Linked DNA regions of Homo sapiens: region 2 is linked to region 1. The links come from fine-mapping of genetic effects on gene expression. A gene starts in region 1. The other region holds a variant in brackets. All regions are shown on one strand. Distances are from middle to middle.

Region 1 (2,900 bases):
GAGACCCATTCTGAAGTGAGGGAGGAGGCGGCCTCCAGCCTTTAGAGCTGAGAGGCTTAGACATCAATTAGCCCGACTGCTGTCCTACTTTGGCAAACAATAATAGACCCCAAGGCCCACAGAAGAGGTTGCTCAACATCACTGAGAGAGATAATGTAACCGCCCATTGGGTTCACCTTACCCTCTGCCTAGACAGAGCCAATTTGTCAAGACAGGGGAATTGCAATAAGGAGAGTTTAATTCATGCAGAGCTGGCTGTACGAGAGACAGGAGGGTTTTTTTTTTGTTTGTTTGTTTGTTTTTTTTTTTTGAGACGGAGTCTCGCTCTGTTGCCCAGGCTGGAGTATAGTGGCATGATCTTGGCTCACTGCAACAGCTGCCTCTCGGGTTCAAGCGATTCTCCTGCCTCAGCATCCCAAGTAGCTGGGACTACAGGCGCCCGTCATCACACCCGGCTAATTTTTGTATTTTTGGTAGAGATGGGGTTTCACTATGTTGGTCAGGCTGGTCTCGAACTCCTGACCTCAGGTGGTCCTTCCGCCTCGGCCTCCCAAAGTGCTGGGATTACAGGCGTGAGCCACTGCGCCTGGCCTGTATCAGTTATAGTTTTTGCAAAGGCAGTTTCAGGAATAAGAAGCAGAACCAGGACTGCAGCCCAAGCCACCACGAGAGGCCAGTCTTTGGGGATGGTCTTTTAGGATGATCTTTGGGGGTGGCCCAAGGAGCCCCAGGCAGCTCCAGAGGCAGGAGGTAGGAGGTCCTGTTTCCCGAATCTGTCCACCCGGGAGAAAGCAGCAGGGGTGGGTGGGTTCTGCCTTGGCCACAGTGAGAGGAGAAGGGAGAGAAGGACTGGGCCTTGGGCGTCCCCCATGGGAGACTAGGAGCTGCGGGGAGATCTGGAGGGGAGGGTGCAGGTGTCACTGGGCCTTGATGTTTCCCAGGGCCGTTTGGTGATGGGAAGAGGGAACTGGAGCCCCAGGCTGCCGCTGATGCTGCTGGCTGACATTTCCGTTCATTCAGTCACTCAGGATTTATTGAGAGCCCACCCTGTGCCACCCGCTGTGCACAGAACACCCAGAGATCCCTGTCCAGACAGACAAGTTCTTCCCATCGTATGTTGGCGTGATAACTGTGATGGAGAAAGAGAGGAAGAGCCAGCAGTGCCTCCGGCTGGGGAGGCGGGGCAGACCTCACCCAGGTGGTGACATTTGAGCCCCAGCTGGAGGGGTGCCAGGGCAAGAGTGCCCAGGAAGAGGGAAGAGCCAGTCCACAGGCCTGGAGACAGAAGGCTGACTGAAGAAGAGTCTGGAGGCTCGGGTGGCTGCAGCAGAGAAAGCAAGGGGGTGGGTGGCAGGACGTGAGGTCAGAGGAGAATGGGCGGCACCCTGTGGCTCACAGATCCTTGAAAGGGTTTTGGTTTTGACTGAGCAGAATGGTGCCATTGCAGATCAACACGCACTTTAAATAATCAAAACCCCTATCTTTCCCCTGGGAAGGAGGAAGCCGAGGAAGGCTGTGTTTCTGACTCACACGGGGGAGTCGGGGGAGTCGTAAACAACCCTGAAGAGAACAGCCAGGCCTGGTGAGTCACTCCTGGGAGTGGCTCCTCCCCACCCTGCCACGCAGCGGCAAATGCGGGCTGGGCCTACCCCCTGGTGGCCACGCTACCTCCGCACCCGGCCTCTCTCTGTGGCATGGGGGCGGCCATGCCCCTTGGTGGAGATGAATGGGAGTGGAGCTGGGCTGGCTGGGCAGGCAGGGGCTTGCCTCTTGCTGACTAAGGCAGCCCTGGAGGGGCCCGACCATGGGGCAGGAACCCAGTTGCCATCCTCAGAGCGAGGATCATTGGCCGGGCTCGGGGATCAGGGCCTCTGTGGTCCCGGCACGCCTGGCCCGTGAGACTGTACTCTGCACGACTCCTCCAGGTGGCCAGGGTCACCGGAACTGGCTCGCTCTCCTCTGCCAGTTGCCGGAGGTCTGGGCACCAGGCCAATTCTCACCTTCCCGCCAGGGTTAAACATTAGTGGGAGGTTATCAGCGTGGGCCAGGGGAGGGAGAGGGGGGAATTCAACTCTGTCTCCTCTGCTGGAGCCACCAGTTCCCGCAAGCCCAGACAATGCCGGTGGAGGAATTTGTGGCTGGCTGGATCTCTGGTGAGACATTTTTCTTCCTTCTGTCACATCACACCCAATGGTAGGTCACTTCCTCGGGAAGATGGGTGACATGGGAGGAGCAGAGACCAAAGTCTGAGTTCCGGCCTGGCGGGAGGATCACTTGAGCCCAGGAGTTTGAGACCAGTCTGGGCAACATAGGGAGGCCCCTGTCTCTACAAAAAAATCAAAATAATTAGCTGGGCATGGTGGCTCACACCTGTAGTCCCAGCTACTTAGGAGGATTGCTTGAGCTCAGGAGTTCAAGGCTGCAGTGAGCTATGACTGCACCACTGCACTCCAGCCTGGGTGACAGAATGAGACCCTGCCACAAAAAAAAAAAAAAAAAAAAAAAAAGAATCAGGGCATGGTGGCTCACACCTGTAATCCCAGCACTTTGCGAGGCTGAGGTAGGAGGATCACTTGGGGCCAGGAGTTTGAGACCAGCCTGGGCAACATAGGAAGACCCTGTCTTTATAAGAAATGAGAGGCTGGGCGCGGTGGCTCATGCCTGTAAGCCCAGCACTTTGGGAGGCTGAGGTAGGTGGATCATGAGGTCAAGATTTCGAGACCAGGCTGGCCAACATGGTGAAACCCCGTCTCTACTAAAAATACAAAAATTAGCCAGGCGCGGTGGCGCACGCCTGTGGTCCCAACTACTCCAGAGGCTGAGGTGGAAGGAGCCCTTAAGCTCAGGAGGTTGAAGCTGCAATGAGCCATGATCATGCCACTGCACTCCAGCCTGGACAA
Region 2 (2,900 bases), 160 kb after region 1:
CCCGAGTAGCTGGGATTACAGGCGCCCGCCACCATGCTCGGGCTAATTGTATTTGTAGTAGAGACAGGGTTTCACCATGTTGGCCAGGCTGGTCTCAAACTCCTGACCTCAGGCGATCTGCCCGCCTTGGCCTCCCAAAGTGCTGGGATTACAGGCATGAGTCACTGCGCCTGGCCAACCCGGCCATTCTTATCCCCTTTCCAGGCTTCGGTTTTCCTCTGTAGCACTTACTGTCTTCGAACATACTATACGATTCGTTATGCATGCTGGTGATATCTCGCCTCGCTAGAACATGGACTCCAAGGAGCAGGGCTGTGTTCACCGCAACCTCTAGAGCCTCTCCTGGCACTAGGAGGCTCTCTATCAGGCAGTGGACCAGTGACAGCTTGGTTAAGTGAAAGAATCAAGATACAGAACAGTGTGCGCAGGAACAAACATGAGGGGAGGCATATATGTATGGAGGGTCACCACACTTGTGCGGTGGGACCCGAGGCAGGGCATGGCCTGTGGTGGGAGCTCCAGGGCACTCGATGGAATCTCTACAAAGTCGTCTTTACAGGCGGAGATGTCCCCAGACAGTGCCCGGCCTCTCCAGCCTCAGGAAGTGTTAAGAGGCTGGGCAGTCTCTGATGCGTGTGTATGTGTGTCTGTATGTGTCTGTGTGTGTCTGTATGTGTCTGTGTAGGTGTTAGAGCCCATTCCAGCACGAGGTGGACCTCAGACACCTGTTTCAAGCCATGGCTGGATGCCCACCCTGCAGAGTGAGCTGTGTAGGCTGGGATTGGCTGAGATCCCGCTGTGTGCTGGGAGAGGGAGGGGAGGTCAGGTGTCCTGGTTCTCTGGTCCCAAGATTTCTTCCTGACCCCTGATATAAAAGATCCATCCTGTCTTTGCACAGCTGATGGTGGCAGCAGTTTCCGTGCCCAGTGGTGTCCCCAGGAGCAAGCTAAGTAGTTAAAATGAAACATAGGTAGGTGGCAGGCCTGTGTCCTGGGTGGGCTTCCTTCTGCCCCGTGATGCTTTCTCCTAGGACCACCCAGGGGCTGCCCAGAACCAGCCTAGAGTGAGGACTGAGCCTGCCACTTATCACTTGGGGGCGCAACACTCCAAGCTGGCATCCAGGAGCCAGGTCTCCACCATGAAGCTGAGGAATCACCAGCCTTCATAGAGTCATACAATTTCAGGGCTGGCTGCTGCCCTGGGGACCATCATGGCTCACTCCTCTCCTGTGTCCCAGTGGCCTCTGTGTCCCCACACTAAGCCTGGAGACAATAGGTGCTTAGTAAGTGGTTATTGTTGGCTAATTCACAAATAAAATAAACCTAACCCTCTCAATTTACAGATGAGTACACTAAAGCCCAGACCTGGGAAAGGCCATCCAGGGACTCCCCACCCACAGCCAGCA[G/A]GGCCACCACTACCCGGGAGCCCAGGTCCCCCAGGTCCAGAACTCTGGCGGGAGGCTTTGAGTTGAGGTTGCTGGATGAGAATCCCAACAAAACAACATGAGAAAAATGTCCGATGACCCTCGACGTTGCCACCCCCCTGTCCCCCCGCCCCCGCCCTGCTCTTTCAGGAGCCCCCGCCCTTCCTGGCCTCTCCTCGGCTGGACTCACCAGGGAGACGGAGTTGAGGATGATGCCAGAGAAGGTCATGCCCATCAGGAACCGGAAGACGCAATAGGCACTGAAGGAGCTGAAATACGCTGTGGCGGCCCCCGAAGCTGCCAGCTGCAGGTAGGACCAGACCAGGGGGCCCTTGCAGCCCAGCCTGAGTCCAGAGAATGGGCACAGGCATTAGGGTTTTGGGAGGCAGCAGCAGCATCCCCCAAGGAACAAATGGGCAGCCCACGCCTGCCCCTTTCACCCGAGCAGGGGATTATCAAGGCAGTCCCGGGGAAGATGGGGTACCCCGCGAAAGCCACCCTTCCAAAACAGAAACTTGAAACTGCTGGGACCCAGGCTTCGTGGCAGAGGTTGGTCACAGACAGAGGGACATAGTGTAGAAGGAAGCTGGCGAGGAGATTTAGTCCGGGCTCGAGGAAAGGCAGGGATTCTGCAAAGCCCCAGAGGGGCGTGTGGCAGGTGGGGAGAGGTCACCTGAGCACTGCTGTGGCTGGAGGGAGGCCTCGAACCAGAACTCACAGCGGGTGAGCCCTTGGCCAGTCCCTGGTGTGGGAGCAGGAGCCAGGGTGGAGTCATTATGTGGACCAGAGGGTTGCCATGCCACAGAGGGGCCCAAGGACAGGATGGCAGGGTGATCTGCCCTGTTTGCAAATGAGGGTCCAGGGCCAGAGCGCACAGCCTCAACTTGGCCAGCAGGGAAGCAGGCCAAGAAGACAGGCAGCTTTTCTTCTCCACACACTCCATGACCCACTCGCTTGCTCGCCCACTCACTCACCCACCCACTCACTCACTCGCCCACCCACCAACCCACCCACTCACTTACCCACCCACCCACTCACTCACCCACCCACTCACCCACCCACTCACTCACCCACCCACCCACTCACTCACCCACCCACTCACCCACTCACTCACCCACCCACCCACCCACTCACTCACCCACCCACCCACTCACCCATCCACTCACCCACCCACTCACTCATCCACTCACTCACCGACTCACTCGCTCACTCGCTCACTCACCCACTCACCCACCCACTCACTCACCCACCCACGCACTCACTCACCCACCCACGCACTCACTCACCCACCCACTCACCCACCCACCTACTCACTCATTCACCCACCCACTCACTCACTCACTCACCGACTCACTCGCTCACTCATGCACTCACTCACTCACCCACCGAGCCACCCACCCACTCACCCACTCACTCACCCACCCACCCACCCACTCATTCACCCACCCACTCACCCACCCACCCACTCACCCACCCA

The links. PIP is the estimated chance that this variant, and not a neighbour inherited with it, causes the effect. A credible set is the group of variants that fine-mapping cannot tell apart.
Region 2: its variant is the best candidate, but not a certain one, in a credible set for the expression of SLC25A45 in whole blood (TOPMed, PIP 0.73).

The regions. Positions count from the first base shown.
Region 1 is chr11:65,381,168-65,384,067 of GRCh38, reverse strand. It overlaps SLC25A45 (solute carrier family 25 member 45), which reads left to right and starts at 1,422. Exons shown (of 7, transcript NM_182556.4): 1 at 1,422-1,582; 2 at 2,099-2,153. The coding sequence starts at 2,117. It also overlaps a transcript of FRMD8 not described here. RefSeq lists a silencer at 1-290 and enhancers at 202-728, 1,057-1,256, 1,267-1,576, 1,476-1,770, 1,257-1,784 and 4 more.
Region 2 is chr11:65,216,402-65,219,301 of GRCh38, reverse strand. It overlaps the pseudogene SLC22A20P. Among named protein-coding and RNA genes, the nearest start is that of CAPN1, 36 kb to the right of the region's middle. RefSeq lists enhancers at 1,463-2,026, 2,027-2,590. The variant G/A (reference allele first, on the strand shown) is at 1,406.